4 linked regions of the Homo sapiens genome follow. The protein of the gene in region 1 interacts with the protein of each later gene in a biochemical or structural test. Each region holds a gene or a part of one and is shown on either strand. Other genes may lie near its edges.

Region 1 (4,059 bases):
CAGTGGCTCACGCCCATAATCCCAGCACTTTGGGAGGCCGAGGCAGGAGGATCACAATGTCAGGAGATTGAGACCATCCTGGCTAACACGATGAAACCCTGTCTCTACTAAAAATACAAAAAATTAGCCAGGCATGGTGGTAGGCGCCTGTAGTCCCAGCTACTCGGGAGGCTGAGACAGGAGAATGGCATGAACCCAGGAGGCGGAGCTTGCAGTGAGCTGAGATCAGGCCACCGCACCCCAGCCTGGGCAACAGAGCAAGACTCCATCTCAAAAAAAAAAAAAAAAAAAAAAAAAAAAATTCGCCAGGCGTGGTGGTGCATGCCTGTAATCTCAGCTACTCAGGAGGCTGAGTCAGGAGAATCGCTTGAACCTGGGAAGTGGAGGTTACGGTGAGCCGAGATCAGGCCATTGCACTCCAGCCTGGGCAACAAGAGTGAAACTCGGTCTCAAAAAAAAAAAAAAAAAAAAAAAGTGCTGGTTCACACCTGTAATCCCAGCACTTTGGGAGGCAGAGGCAGGCGGATCACGAGGTCAGGAGTTCGAGACCAGCCTGGCCAATATAGTAAAACCCCGTCTCTACTAAAATTGCAAAAATTAGCTGGGCGTGGTGGCACGTACCTGTAGTCCCAGCTATTTGGGAGACTGAGCCAGGCCAATCAGTTGAACCCAGGAGGTAGAGGTTGCAGCGAGCCAAGATCACGCCACTGCACTCTAGTCTGGGTGACAGAGCAAGACTCTGTCTCAAAAAAGAAAAAGAAAAAGAAAAAGAAAAAAAGCCTTAGCAAGCTATATGATCATGTCCCAGATAAAACAAATTTAAATTATCAAAACCTGTGGTTAGGCCATGAACCAAAAATGATTCCTACATTTTTTAAATGTATATTTTTAAAAAAACACAGGAGGCGGAAGTTGCAGTGAGCCAAGATCACACTACTGCACTCTAGCCTAGGCAACAGAATGAGACCAAAAAAAAAAAAAAAAAAAATGTGAATGAGATAAGAGATATTTGTGGCCTGCAAAGCTGAATATTTACTGGCTGACCCTTTATACAAGTTGGCTAACACATTAAAACTACAAACAGGGCCGAGTGCGGTGGCTCACGCCTGTAATCTCCAGCACTTTGGGAGGCTGAGATGGGTGCATCACCTAAGGTCAGGAGTTCAGAGACCAGCCTGGCAAACATTATGAAACCCCATCTCTACTAAAAATACAAAAAATTAGCTGGGTGTGGTGATGGGCACCTGTAATCCCAGCTACTCAGGATGCTGCAGCAGGAGAATCGCTTGAAATAAGGAGGTGGAGGTTGCAGTGAGCCCAGACCACGCCATTGCACTCCAGCCTGGACAACAGCGTGAAACTCCGTCTCAAAACACAACACAAAAACTGCAGACCAGGCGCAGTGACTCAAGCCCATGATCCCAGCACTTTGTGAGGCCAAGGCTGATGGATCACCTGGGGCTGGGAGTTTGAGACCAGTCTGACCAACGTGGAGAAACCCCGTCTCTACTAAAAATACAAAATTAGCCAGGCGAGGTGGCGTATGCCTGTAATACCAGCTATTTGGGAGGCTGGGAGGGGGAGGGGGAGGGGGAGGTGGAGGTGGAGGTTGCGGTAAGCCGAGATCACGCCACTGCACTACAGCCTGGGCAACAGAGAGAGGCTGTGTCTCCCCCCCCAAAAAAAAAAAAAAAGCCAAAATAGGATTGGAACCCAGCATTTCTGACAGAAGGCTTATTTTTTTTCACTTCACAAAAAGGGACAATAATTTCTCCAGCGGTCCTTTTATTGCAAAGTAACTAACCATGTCTCTGTACTTCCAGTTTGTTTTATTATATAATCTAAACTAGCTTCTGCATACTTGACAACATGATAATGGAGTCCTGAGAGTCTAAAATTTGTTATGGAGGCAGTGAGAGAGTGATATTTGACCTTGAGTCTTTCTTGAACAAAGAAAAATTCTTTTATCTCCTGGGGATGTTAAAAGAAGAATGCTTCAGGGTCTAAAACCAAAGCAAGAAAGTAATTTTTTTAAAAAAAGAGTGCTCAAAAGACGGAATGTGGAAAGCCACAAGAGTTGCTTGATAGAAAAGTGCTAAGTGGGTATGCGTGGTGGTTCATGCCTATAATCCCAGCACTTTGGGAGGCCAAGGCAGGTAAATCACTTGAAGTCAGCCTGGACAACATGGTGAAACCCCATCGCTACTAAAAATACAAAAATTAGACAGGCATGGTGGCGCGCTCCTATAGTCCCAGCTACTTGGGAGGCTGAAGCACAAGAATCCTTGAACCCGGTGGTGGAGGTTGCAGTGAGCTGAGATCGTGCCACTGCACTGCAGCCTGGGTGAGAGAGTGAGATTCCGACTCAAAAAAAAAAAAAAAAAAAAAAAAAATAGTGCTGGCTAAGTGCGGTGGCTTATGGCAGTAATCTCAGCACTTTGGGAGGCTGAGGTGAGCAGGTCACCTGATGTCAGGAGTTCAAGACCAGCCTGGCCAACCACCGTGGTGAAATCCCGTCTCTACTAAAAATGTAAAAATTAGCTGGGCATGGTGGTGCACACCTGTGATCCCAGCTACTAGGATGGCTGAGGCGGGAGAATTGCTTGAACATGAAAGGCAGAGGTTGCAGTAAGCCAGATAGCGCCACTGCACTCTAGCCTGGGCGACAGAGTGAGACTCCTTCTCCGCACCACCCAAAAAAAAAAAAAAAAGTGCTACATTTTCCATAAAACATTACCTTGAACAGCTTTCACCTTTGTATCTTAGAGTGGAAACTACCACATAAAATAACTCGCTAGGACAGAGGTTCACAAGCCTTCCTGGTATATAGTGCCCTTGGTGTCTGAGGAGTTTTGTTGTGCTCTTAAGCCAAAAGGAGTAACTAGCAGTTGCTTTGATGACATAGCTGTATCCAAGCAACATAACTATATTGTCTTAGCAGCCTAGTAGCTATTGGAAAAACGAATTTACATTATTGGAAAGAAAAATATATATAGTTTCTTATATAACCATACCTATCAATGGAATGTGTATGGCTTTTGGATACTATATAACTTCTCAAACTTTGAAATGACTTCTATCATCTCACTCCTTGTTCCCCATTATTATTATTATTTTTTTTTGGTGGGGTGGGTACCTGTGTTTTTTTGAGTTATAGCAACCACCAGAAATTCAGTTTTTAGAAGATGAAACTTAATGGAGGGGTTTGCAGTACAATCTCATATTGAAACTGAACAACCTGAAACTAATAGTTTGCTTAGTGTCTTGGCTTATGTTGAGTATCACTGAATTACTCTGAAATTTAAAATATCCCAAGGTAGTTGTGAGTTCCTCCATGGGGCCCTGATACATCTTGGCACATGATTTGGTAGCCACAGGCCACAGGACTAGCAGGTTTATTCAGAAAGTTTTATAGTACTACAGCTGATTACAGAAGATCTCAAATATCTTACGGTTTCCCTGAGCAATGAGTATGTGGGAGACAGCTTGGTGTCAGACATTTATAGGCAAGGTGTTTGATACCTAAGAAGGAAAAACCATTTATGAACTCCAGGAACTACTTTTTTCCTTTCCATAGCAGAACTTTGATGTCTCATTCCTCACATATTACAAATAGGTATTTTTAATTTATTTATTATTTTTGAGATGGAGTCTGGCTCTGTCGCCCAGGTTGGAGTGCAGTGGCGTGATCTCGGCTCACAGCAGCTTCTGCCTCCTGGGTTCAAGCAGTTCTCCTTCCTCAGTCCCTTGAGTAGCTGGGATTACAGGCGCCCGCCACCAAGCCTGGCTAATTTTTGTTTTTTAGTAGAGGCAGGTTTTCACCATGTTGGCCAGGCTGGTCTCGAACTCCTGACCTCAGGTGAGCCACCCGCCTCAGCCTCCCAAAGTGCTGGAATTACAGGAGTGAGCCACCATACCCAGCCTGTTTTGTCTTTTATAATAAAATGTGCATTGCACATAGTAAAACTATCAAATGGATTAAAATAACTGGGACACTTTTCCTAGCAAACTGTTTCCATCTAGCTTCTTTGGTGCATCAATTTTTTATAGTGAAGGGTG
Region 2 (3,500 bases), on another chromosome or scaffold:
CTGACCTCAGGTGATCCACCTGCTTCGGCCTCCCAAAGTGTTGGGATTACAGGCATGAGCCACCATGCCCGGCCTGTTTAATTTGTTTTAAGGTTCTTTCTCCAGATTCTTTTTTAAAAAAAATTTTTTTTTCTATTTGTCTTGTCAACTGGCCTTTGACATATAGGCAGCAGCAACAGCAAACAGAATTGGACATGGTACCAGGAAGAGATGGACTGGCCAGCTACAATCATTCCCAGGTGAGTTGTGTCCTCTTCGTTGAAGAGGGTAGGGAGTATTTACTTAGGAAGTGTTCTCCGGTACTAGTTAGAATGTACATATGTTGTATATGAATTTTAGGGTTATTGAATTGTCATGTTAAATCTTTAATGGTTATTTTTATCATTGTATTCCACAGGTGGTTCAGCCTGTGACAACCACAGGACCAGAACACAGCAAGCCCCTTGAGAAGTCAGATGGTTTATTTGCCCAGGATAGAGATCCAAGATTTTCAGAAATCTATCACAACATCAATGCGGGTATGTTTCTTTCTCATTATCCTTTTAAATTCTCATTTAGATCACTTACTGATGGGCATGCCACTGCCCAGTCAGTAATCTTCCAGTGTTTTTCCACTTAATCATAATACCACCTGAGTAAATAGGAACTTGCTGAACTAATATACTACAGCCCCTTGACTGGCCCTTCCCCAACTCCTTTTGGTCCACAGATCAGAGTAAAGGCATCTCCTCCAGCACTGTCCCTGCCACCCAACAGCTATTCTCCCAGGGCAACACATTCCCTCCTACCCCCCGGCCGGCAGAGAATTTCAGGTGAGCCCCGTATATATGTGCTGCTTTACAGGGCCCTGAGGGATTCAGCTGCTGAATCCAAATTTTATTCTTCCCTTGCTTTCTCTGGTTACTTCAGAAAAAGCAGTGAAGCTTGTAGGGCCTAGCGTGAGGCAAACAAGCTGCTTTTCTTCCTCCTATTTCTTTGCACCTGTCCTATTGCCATGTTCTAGGCTCCATCTCTGTGTGTCCTGGTCAGTGTGTGACTGTCAGTCTTTCTTGTCTTTTCCAAATTGTTATCAAATTTTCCTTAACCTGCAGGAAGTCAAGGGGATCTAGGGATAGCACTAGATTGTCCTTTGATTCCTAGCTTCTGTGATAAATCTATCCTTTTAATCTTTTACCTCATTTATTCACTCCTAGGAATAGTGGCCTAGCCCCTCCTGTAACCATTGTCCAGCCATCAGCTTCTGCAGGACAGATGTTGGCCCAGATTTCCCGCCACTCCAACCCCACCCAAGGAGCAACCCCAACTTGGACCCCTACTACCCGCTCAGGCTTTTCTGCCCAGGTAAAACTTATCATCTGTGTGTTCCCTGTGTATTATTTTTTGTTTGTTTGGGCTTTTTTCCGTATGTAAAATCAGTGTTTTCTATTTTAAATACCTTCTCCCCAACCCCTGTTCTCCGGTTTCCAATTTCCATCTTTGTTGAGAGTAGCTAATTAAAAATCACAGATAATAAAAAAAAATCTCAGTAGAGTCTGTGGTTTTCACCTTAAATCAGAATTGCTCACTTGGAACGTTTTGAGCACGTCTGATTTTCAGATTTGTTTTGGAGTAAATTCTAAGATGTTTCCTCTTTGTTTAGGACTCCATAAGGCAGGAGCAAAGGAGAAAATTAATGACTAACTTACAGTGATGTCTGTTTACAAAAAAGTTGAAAAATTCTTTTTTTTTTTTTTTTTGAGACAGAGTCTTGCTCTGTCGCCCAGGCTAGAGTGCAGTGGTGCGATCTTGGCTCACTGCAAGCTCTGCCTCCCGGGTTCACGCCATTCTCCTGCCTCAGCCTTCCAAGTAGCTGGGACTTGTACAGGCGCCCGCCACTGCGCCTAATTTTTTTTTTTTGTATTTTTAGTAGAGATGGGGTTTCACCATGTTAGCCAGGATGGTCTCAACCTCCTGACCTTGTGATCCGCCCACCTCAGCCTCCCAAAGTGCTGGGATTACAGGCGTGAGCCACCGCGCCTGGCTGAAAAATTCTTTTTTTTTTTTTTTCTTGAGACAGACTGTCACTTTGTTGCCCAGGCTCTGGAGTGCAGTGGCGCGATCTCGGCTCACTGCAAGCTCCGCTTCCTGGGTTCATGCCATTCTCCTGCCTCAGCCTCCCGAGTAGCTGGGACTACAGGGTGCTCGCCACCACGCCTGGCTAATTTTTTGTATTTTTAGTAGAGACGGCATTTCACCGTGTTAGCCAAGATGGTCTTGATCTCTTGACCTCGTGATCCGCCCTCCTCGGCCTCCCAAAGTGCTGGGATTACAGGCATGAGCCACCGCATCCAGCCGAAAAATTCTTTTATAATATTCATATATATAATATAACGCACAATAAATACACTGTCTAAAGAAAGATTCTTTAATATTACTATATATTTATGTTATACAAGTAATAGTTTTAAAAAGTCAAAACCAAAAGCAGGTTCCAGAATGTTATATGCAATACGATCTCAATTGTGTACAAAATGCATGAGAAAATAGAAACTGGAAGAAATTATCCAAACATGTTAACCATGGAATTATGAATGATTCTTATTTTCTTTATATTTTCCTTCACTTTCTGAATATTCTATAATGCATATACAGAACTCTCATGAGAAAATAGTTTTTATAAAAAATACATCATTAGGAACAAATGAATGCAGAACAGACAGAATAATGGTGCAGAGTAGTTTTTCTCTGCATATGGTACTTTTTTTGTTGTTTGTTTTTTTGAGACAGAGTCTCGCTGTTGCCCAGGCTAGAGTGCAGTGGCGCGATCTTGGCTCACTGCAACCTCTGTCTCCCGGGTTCAAGTGATTCTCCTGCCTCAGCCTCCTGGGTTGCTGGGATTACAGGCACGTGCCACCATGCCCAGCTAATTTTTGTATTTTTAGTAGAGACGGGGATTTCACCATGTTGGCCCGGCTGGTCTGGAACTCCTCACCTCAGGTGGTCTGCCTGCCTTGGCCTCCCAAAGTGCTGGGATTATAGGCATGAGCCATGAGCCACCCCGCCTGGCCTGCATATAATACTTTACTGTTATGAATGCCTCTAGTTTTATATAACTTCACAGTTTATAAGATGCTTTCATTTAATTCTTACAATTTTTATTAATCCCATAGTTCATTGCTTTTTTGTAATTTTATCTCAGCTGCCTAAAAAATAGTGTCAAGAGAGATTGAGAGTTAATTGGAAGAAATATACAATAGGAAATAAGTGATGAGCTTGGTTCAGAAGGATGCAGTGATTGACAGTGTTGACTCTCATAGGCATGGTATGTGCAATGATGTTAATGCTGTATTTGTTCTATATCCCCTCTCCATCTCTCTTTAGCAGGTGGCTACCCAGGCTACTGCTAAGACTCGTACTTCCCAGTTTGGTGTGGGCAGCTTTCAGACTCCATCCTCCTTCAGCTCCATGTCCCTCCCTGGTGCCCCAACTGCATCGCCTGGTGCTGCTGCCTACCCTAGTCT
Region 3 (3,500 bases), on another chromosome or scaffold:
GGGCCAAGGATTGGAAACAGGCAACTTACCTCTGAATTACACTATTCCAGGGTCTCATTATTCCAGGGTTTTATTACATTCATTGAGCACTGTTCTGGGCTCTGGATTATACCAGAGAACGATGGTAGACAAAAACATCTGTCCTCAGGGATCTTTCGTGTTAGTGGAGTGAGGATGTGAGGAGCACTAAGAGCCATGGAGAAAAATAAAGCAAGAGAAGTGGATCGGGACCTGGGAGCACGGAGGCAAGGGAGGAGGTGACAGTTGTCCATAGAGTGATCTGGGAAAGCCTCTTGAGAGGTGACATTCAAAGAGGCCCCTGAGAGGGGTACGGGAGTGAATCATGGGGCTATTTGGAGAAAGACCATTCCAGAAAGGAGGACAGCAATTACACAGGCCTTGAGGTAGGAGAGTACCAGGGACTAATAGCCAGGAACCAGTGGTGCCTCTGAGAGTGAGGGAGGGGGAGAGTCATACACGAGGCTGGAGGAGGCAGGCGTCAAGGGCTACTGGGTGATAGAGGGTCTAGCAGGGCCATGGTGAGGACTTTGGCTCTGGGTGAACAAGAATGGCATGATCTGACCTCTGTTTTTTTGTTTCATTTTGTTTTAACTTTTTTTGAGTCAGAGTCTCGCTCTGCCGCCCAGGCTAGAGTGCAGTGGCATGATCTCGGCTTACTGCAACCTCCGCCTCCCAGGTTCAAGTGATTCCCCTGCCTCAGCCTCCCGAGTAGCTGGAACTACGGGCATGCGCCACCACACCCAGCTAATTTTTGTATTTTTAGTAGAGATGGGGTTTCACCATGTTGCCCAGGCTAGTCTCTAATTCCTGGGCTCAAAGCGATTTGCCTGCCTCTGCCTCCCAAAGTGCCGGGATTACAGGCATGAGCCACCATGCCCAGCCCTGACCTCTGTTTTAATAAGGCCACTCTGGCTGCTGTGCTGCAAATAGACTTCAGGGAGCAAGGACAGAAGCTGGGAGGCCAGAGAGCAGGCTCTTGCCATAATCCAGATCCAAGCTTTTGGCCACTAGGACGGGGAGGTAGCAATGGAGGTGAGGCGCGGTCAGGTCCTGGAAGGTGAAGCCAGTGGGATTTCCCTATGGATTGGAAGTGGGGCGTGAAATAGAGGAGTCAGGGGTCACTCTGGGGATTTGGCCTGGAGCAGCTGGAAGATGGAGTGGCTGTTAACTTATGTAGGGAAGGCTGTGGGAAGAAGAGGTTTAGGAGACAAGGATAGCAGTTCATTTATTTATTTATTTATTTATTTATTTATTTATTTATTTATTTATTTAGAGATGTAGTCTCATTCTTTCGCCAGGCTGGAGTGCAGTGGCGCGATCTTGGCTCACTGCAACCTCCACCTCCCAGGCTCAAGCGATTCTCTTGCCTCAGCCTCCCGAGTAGCCAAGTAGCTGGGACTACAGGCATGTGCCACCATGCCTGGCTAATTTTTGTATTTGCTTTTTCAGTAGAGATGGGGTTTCACCACGTTAGCCAGGCTGGTCTCGAACTGACCTCAGGCAATCCACCCGCCTCGACCTCCCAGTGTTGGTATTATAGGCGTGAGCCACTGTGCCTGGCCCACTGGATCCTTATTACAACTGCCAGTGTCCCTCTTATATATATCAGGAAATAGAAGATTAGGGAGAGGTTAAATAATTTGCCTAGAGTGGCATGGCTAGCTCGAAGTGAGGCAGGGGTCAACCCCAGCCCTGACTCCAAACCCAGGGTCCTAGGCCTGAACTGCCCAGCCTTGCCCAGCCTGAGGCTCCCCTGACTGGGGATCCCGTCTCGGGGGCAGGAAGGAGATCCTGCAGGAATACCTGGAGATTAGCAGCCTGGTGCAGGATGAGGTGGTGGCCATTCACCGGGAGATGGCTGCAGCTGCTGCCCGCATCCAGCCTGAGGCTGAGTACCAAGGCTTCCTGCGACAGTATGGGTAAGCCCCGTCCTTGCTCCTGCTGGGCCCAGGGCTGCTGGCCTGTCCACTGACGGGGCGCTGTCCCCCACAGGTCCGCACCTGACGTCCCACCCTGTGTCACGTTCGATGAGTCACTGCTTGAGGAGGGTGAACCGCTGGAGCCTGGGGAGCTCCAGCTGAACGAGCTGACTGTGGAGAGCGTGCAGCACACGTGGGTGGTGGCTTTGCACCTGGGCTGCGGCGGGGCTCCCAGCAGACCACGAGTGTTTATGTAGGCAGGGCTAGGTCGTGGAGACTGTCCACACAGAGCTGTCACCAGGTGGCCGGGCTTGCTTGGCTCTACAGGGATGCACTGGACCTGGGTTGAGGGGGCAGGAGGGCTCGGTTCTAATGCTGCCCTTCTCTTGGGTGCAGGCTGACCTCAGTGACAGATGAGCTGGCTGTGGCCACCGAGATGGTGTTCAGGCGGCAGGAGATGGTTACGCAGCTGCAACAGGAGCTCCGGAATGAAGAGGAGAACACCCACCCCCGGGAGCGGTGAGTGGGCCCCTGCCTGCAGCAGCCTCCTGGGCCTCCCTCCCTCCTACCTACCCTAACTGCTGCTGGCTACCCGCCGCAGACCGAGCCCTTATTCTCATCCACCCTCCCACCCGCCCCTGCCTGCAGGGTGCAGCTGCTGGGCAAGAGGCAAGTGCTGCAAGAAGCACTGCAGGGGCTGCAGGTAGCGCTGTGCAGCCAGGCCAAGCTGCAGGCCCAGCAGGAGTTGCTGCAGACCAAGCTGGAGCACCTGGGCCCCGGCGAGCCCCCGCCTGTGCTGCTCCTGCAGGATGACCGCCACTCCACGTCGTCCTCGGTGAGCTGCCCCATCCGCGGCCGCTGCCCGCCACCGGCCTGCCCACCTGGGGCTGCGCTCCTCATTTTCGCCCTCCCCCTCCCTAAGCCTGGCCACCCGCTGACGTCTGTCCCTGGCCTCAGGAGCAGGAGCGAGAGGGGGGAAGGACACCCACGCTGGAGATCCTTAAGAGCCACATCTCAGGAATCTTCCGCCCCAAGTTCTCGGTGAGTGGCGCCCAGCCTGGGCCCCCCTACTGTTGTGTTTCGAGTTTAATCACTGGGATGTCCTAGAGAGGAGGCTCTGCCCAGGCTGCTTGTATTGGGAAGTTCCTCTCTTCCCTGGGATTCCAGGCTGCAGATGTCCCCAGACCCTGCCCCTGTGACCCCTCCCTTTCCATCGCCCCAGTGTGCTAAAGGGACCAGCAACCTCGACTATTCCATGGCTCTCCCTGCTTCAGGAGCGGGTTGGGGGCCTGTGGCCTGGAGGAGGAGGCACCAGCTTGGTTTGGGGTCTTCCTGCCTGGGCTTCCCTTCCCAGCTCTGCCCAGCGTGAGCCTGGGCCAGTCCAGTGCCCACTCCAGGGGCCTGTGGATGGCTCTGCATGCCACTCCATGGTTGTAAGGGCTGAGGGCATATAGGGGGGAGAGAGAGACCCCCGGCTGCCCCCACGGCCTCTTCAACAAGGTGGTTAAGTGACTCCTCCTCGATCCTCCCTTGCCCAGCTCCCTCCACCGCTGCAGCTCA
Region 4 (3,500 bases), on another chromosome or scaffold:
CAGAACCTCAGCACACCCACGTGGGTCAGATGCAGTACAATCCAGTACTGCCAGGCCAACAGGCATTTTTAAACAAGGTAAGGGTGTTATCAAACTGAATTAAATCTTTCAGTGATTCTTTTTACCTTATAGACATGTTACACATTTTTTATGTCAGCTGATTTTAATCGGTTATCTACAGCATTCATGGAGACAGCATTTTTTATTATATCTGTGACTACCTTTTTTTTTTTTACAAGCCTGTACTTTTTCCAGTATGTTACTAATATATCATTCACCTGATTCATGAGGGAGAAAGATATCAAGGAATGAAGCAACATGAATGTGTCCTTAATATAAGATGACCTAAATTACCAGGTGAAATTAGTTTTTAGAAGTATTTTGTTTAAAATAGATAATTTGGTTTATTCTTTCTGGATTCTTTAAAAATTATATGGCTATTTAAAAATTCAAGCTTTAAAAAACGTATTGCAATTTTTAAGAATAATTTCTTCAAAGCTCTATTTTTTTATATATGTTTGAAATTGAGTTAAACTCAAATTTAAGTGTGCTTTCTTACAATGCCTCTGAAACCCTAGATTAATTATATCCCTGGAATTCAGTCCTAGGCACCTCCATGTTCTCTAGCTATTCCTCCACATTACCTCCCCTATCCTCATCTCATCCTTTAAGGTAGAATGGCTTTCTTTTCTGGCTTTCTTAAAAGAGGTAACTCAGCTGGCTTTCTGTCATGGAAATCAAGCTTGATAGTGCATTTTTGTTGTTTAAATGTGTCATCAGAATCCGTCTGGCAGTGAGCACACTTTAAATCTAAAAATGATCACTTAAAAAAAAAAAGTTAACATAATGTCAGTAACTGCTGTCTCTGGCCACTCAGGAATACATCATGTTTGCATTTATGCTTTTTCCATTAGAAAATATTTAGTTCATTTTAAAGTATATTTAAGTTTAGTTTTAAAGAATATCTTGACTAAAATTAAGCTCCTTGACCCCTGTTTACTCTGTATTAGAGTATAATAATTAAAAGTATGACCTGAAGCTTTATCTTTAATTGTATTTTCTGGCTTTTTCATACATTTTGCTTGTCTAATCGTATATGAGCTTTTTAATAGAAAAGGACAGTGAAAATTTTTCTTATTCCTTACATCCTTCAATTATATTAAAATTGAATAATATTCAGTTATAGTCCGTCTCACAAAATTGCTATGAAAGTATATTTTACTCTTGAGTAAAGCAAATTGTACAGAAGTTAATTCTGTAAAATTACATTTTGAATAAGGAGTTGCATGAGTACCACATAAGTTCTTTGCAGTGTTTTCCCCTCACTACTTTTCACTGCTTCTTTGTAAATAACCAAATAATTCTATAGACCTACATATGTTCCAGAGTACATGTTATTGAGCTAAGACACTCAATATTGAGCCACTGAGTAGCTGTTCAGCACTTGAAATGTGGCTAGTCCAAATTGAGATGTGCTGTGTGAAGTACACATTGGATTTTTGGATTTTGAAGACTTGGCTTGAAAAAAGAATGTAAAATATCTCATCTTTTATTATTGATTTCATGTTGAAATGATTAGTTTTTTCAGTAGCCGCATTACAAAAGTAAAAAGAAACAGGTAAAATTAACTTTAGAAATGTATTTTATTTAATCTACTGTAGCCAAAAATTTAAGTTCTGTATGTGGCTCACATTATATTTCTATTGGATTACACTGCTGTGTACAGTATGTTTAAAGAGAATGGTGACATGAATTGTGTTATGAGTAATGAGAAAAAATCATTTTAAACTCACCATTATCTGGCCAGGTAATACTAACTTTTTATTTAAAGAATTTACAGTGTTGCCATTCATTGAAGATACAGGTTATATGATTTTTACTATAGATTTTATATATGTTTTGGAGGATCTGTGAAGTAATTAACATTTTGATTACTGAAGCCAGTTATGTAGGCTTTACAAAGGTAGATTTTATTTGAAGCAATTAAGGATATGATTTTAATCTGTTTTAAAGTTTCCAGAACGTCCACTAACTAAAATATAAAGGCTCTGTAATCTATAAAACTCTACAGAGCTATACATCTTCATGTCCTTCCTTTTTATTTTTCTTTTTTCTACTAGCAGTTATAGAAACCAGATTCATTGCAGTGTAAGAAAACAAGACAGAGCATTTTCTTTTGGTAACTTGATTCTGTAATTAGAACTATGCTTTCAGTAGTATTCATTAATTAAAAGTATATTATGAATAAGAAATCGGTTAAGAAAATCATACCTGTGGTGTAATATTTTAGGAATATTTAGAAACATTTAGAAAATCAGAAGCTGCCTTTTTTGGAAAAGTTTTGCATTCCAGTGTAAGATTCCTGAATATAATCAATTCATTGATACCTATAACTTCAAACCTGGTCAAAGCAAACCTACTTATGATAGAGAATATTTAACTGTAATTTGTGACTTGTGCTGTTTGACCCATCAATTCCTACCTGACCCAAAGGCAATCTGAAATGAGACAGCTGCATCACTCATCTGTACCATGTTCAAAATTTCCTGTCAAATTAATGGAAAAACAGGTTATAAATGCAACTAATACATAATATGTCCTCAGTATGTCTTCACTGTGTGAAAGATTTAAAATTTAGCAACAGTAAAGGAACTTGAAGTTTACAACTCTCAGGGGTAAGATTTTAAAAATACATGTTAATGTTATTTACTGGCTTAAGATACTTGGAAGATCTATTCCAATAAGTTGCATCACCATTTTTGTTTTCAGTTTCAGAATGGAGTTTTAAATGAAACATATCCAGCTGAATTAAATAACATAAATAACACTCAGACTACCACACATCTTCAGCCACTTCATCATCCGTCAGAAGCCAGACCTTTTCCTGATTTGACATCCAGTGGATTCCTGTAATTCCAAGCCCAATTTTGACCCTGGTTTTTGGATTAAATTAGTTTGTGAAGGATTATGGAAAAATAAAACTGTCACTGTTGGACGTCAGCAAGTTCACATGGAGGCATTGATGCATGCTATTCACAATTATTCCAAACCAAATTTTAATTTTTGCTTTTAGAAAAGGGAGTTTAAAAATGGTATCAAAATTACATATACTACAGTCAAGATAGAAAGGGTGCTGCCACGGAGTGGTGAGGTACCGTCTACATTTCACATTATTCTGGGCACCACAAAATATACAAAACTTTATCAGGGAAACTAAGATTCTTTTAAATTAGAAAATATTCTCTATTTGAATTATTTCTGTCACAGTAAAAATAAAATACTTTGAGTTTTGAGCTACTGGATTCTTATTAGTTCCCCAAATACAAAGTTAGAGAACTAAACTAGTTTTTCCTATCATGTTAACCTCTGCTTTTATCTCAGATGTTAAAATAAATGGTTTGGTGCTTTTTATAAAAAGATAATCTCAGTGCTTTCCTCCTTCACTGTTTCATCTAAGTGCCTCACATTTTTTTCTACCTATAACACTCTAGGATGTATAT

What was found. The genes of interacting proteins can lie anywhere in the genome.
Region 2: the proteins of PTGES3 (region 1) and ARNT form a complex in vitro, tested with the Homo sapiens proteins (one study listed by BioGRID).
Region 3: the proteins of PTGES3 (region 1) and FES form a complex in vitro, tested with the Homo sapiens proteins (one study listed by BioGRID).
Region 4: the proteins of PTGES3 (region 1) and AHR form a complex in vitro, tested with the Homo sapiens proteins (one study listed by BioGRID).

Annotation. Positions count from the first base shown.
Region 1 is NC_000012.12:56,674,554-56,678,612, forward strand, and holds part of PTGES3 (prostaglandin E synthase 3), read right to left. Parts: intron 1-4,059. UniProt on the Homo sapiens protein: Cytosolic prostaglandin synthase that catalyzes the oxidoreduction of prostaglandin endoperoxide H2 (PGH2) to prostaglandin E2 (PGE2).
Region 2 is NC_000001.11:150,814,100-150,817,599, reverse strand, and holds part of ARNT (aryl hydrocarbon receptor nuclear translocator), read left to right. Parts: intron 1-166; coding exon 167-239; intron 240-397; coding exon 398-518; intron 519-709; coding exon 710-812; intron 813-1,193; coding exon 1,194-1,341; intron 1,342-3,360; coding exon 3,361-3,500. UniProt on the Homo sapiens protein: Required for activity of the AHR. Upon ligand binding, AHR translocates into the nucleus, where it heterodimerizes with ARNT and induces transcription by binding to xenobiotic response elements (XRE).
Region 3 is NC_000015.10:90,887,504-90,891,003, forward strand, and holds part of FES (tyrosine-protein kinase Fes/Fps), read left to right. Parts: intron 1-1,802; coding exon 1,803-1,940; intron 1,941-2,013; coding exon 2,014-2,133; intron 2,134-2,336; coding exon 2,337-2,459; intron 2,460-2,588; coding exon 2,589-2,775; intron 2,776-2,862; coding exon of another isoform or gene 2,863-2,897; coding exon 2,898-2,981; intron 2,982-3,478; coding exon 3,479-3,500. UniProt on the Homo sapiens protein: Tyrosine-protein kinase that acts downstream of cell surface receptors and plays a role in the regulation of the actin cytoskeleton, microtubule assembly, cell attachment and cell spreading.
Region 4 is NC_000007.14:17,340,152-17,343,651, forward strand, and holds part of AHR (aryl hydrocarbon receptor), read left to right. Parts: coding exon 1-77; intron 78-2,769; coding exon 2,770-2,913; 3' UTR 2,914-3,500. UniProt on the Homo sapiens protein: Ligand-activated transcription factor that enables cells to adapt to changing conditions by sensing compounds from the environment, diet, microbiome and cellular metabolism, and which plays important roles in development, immunity and cancer.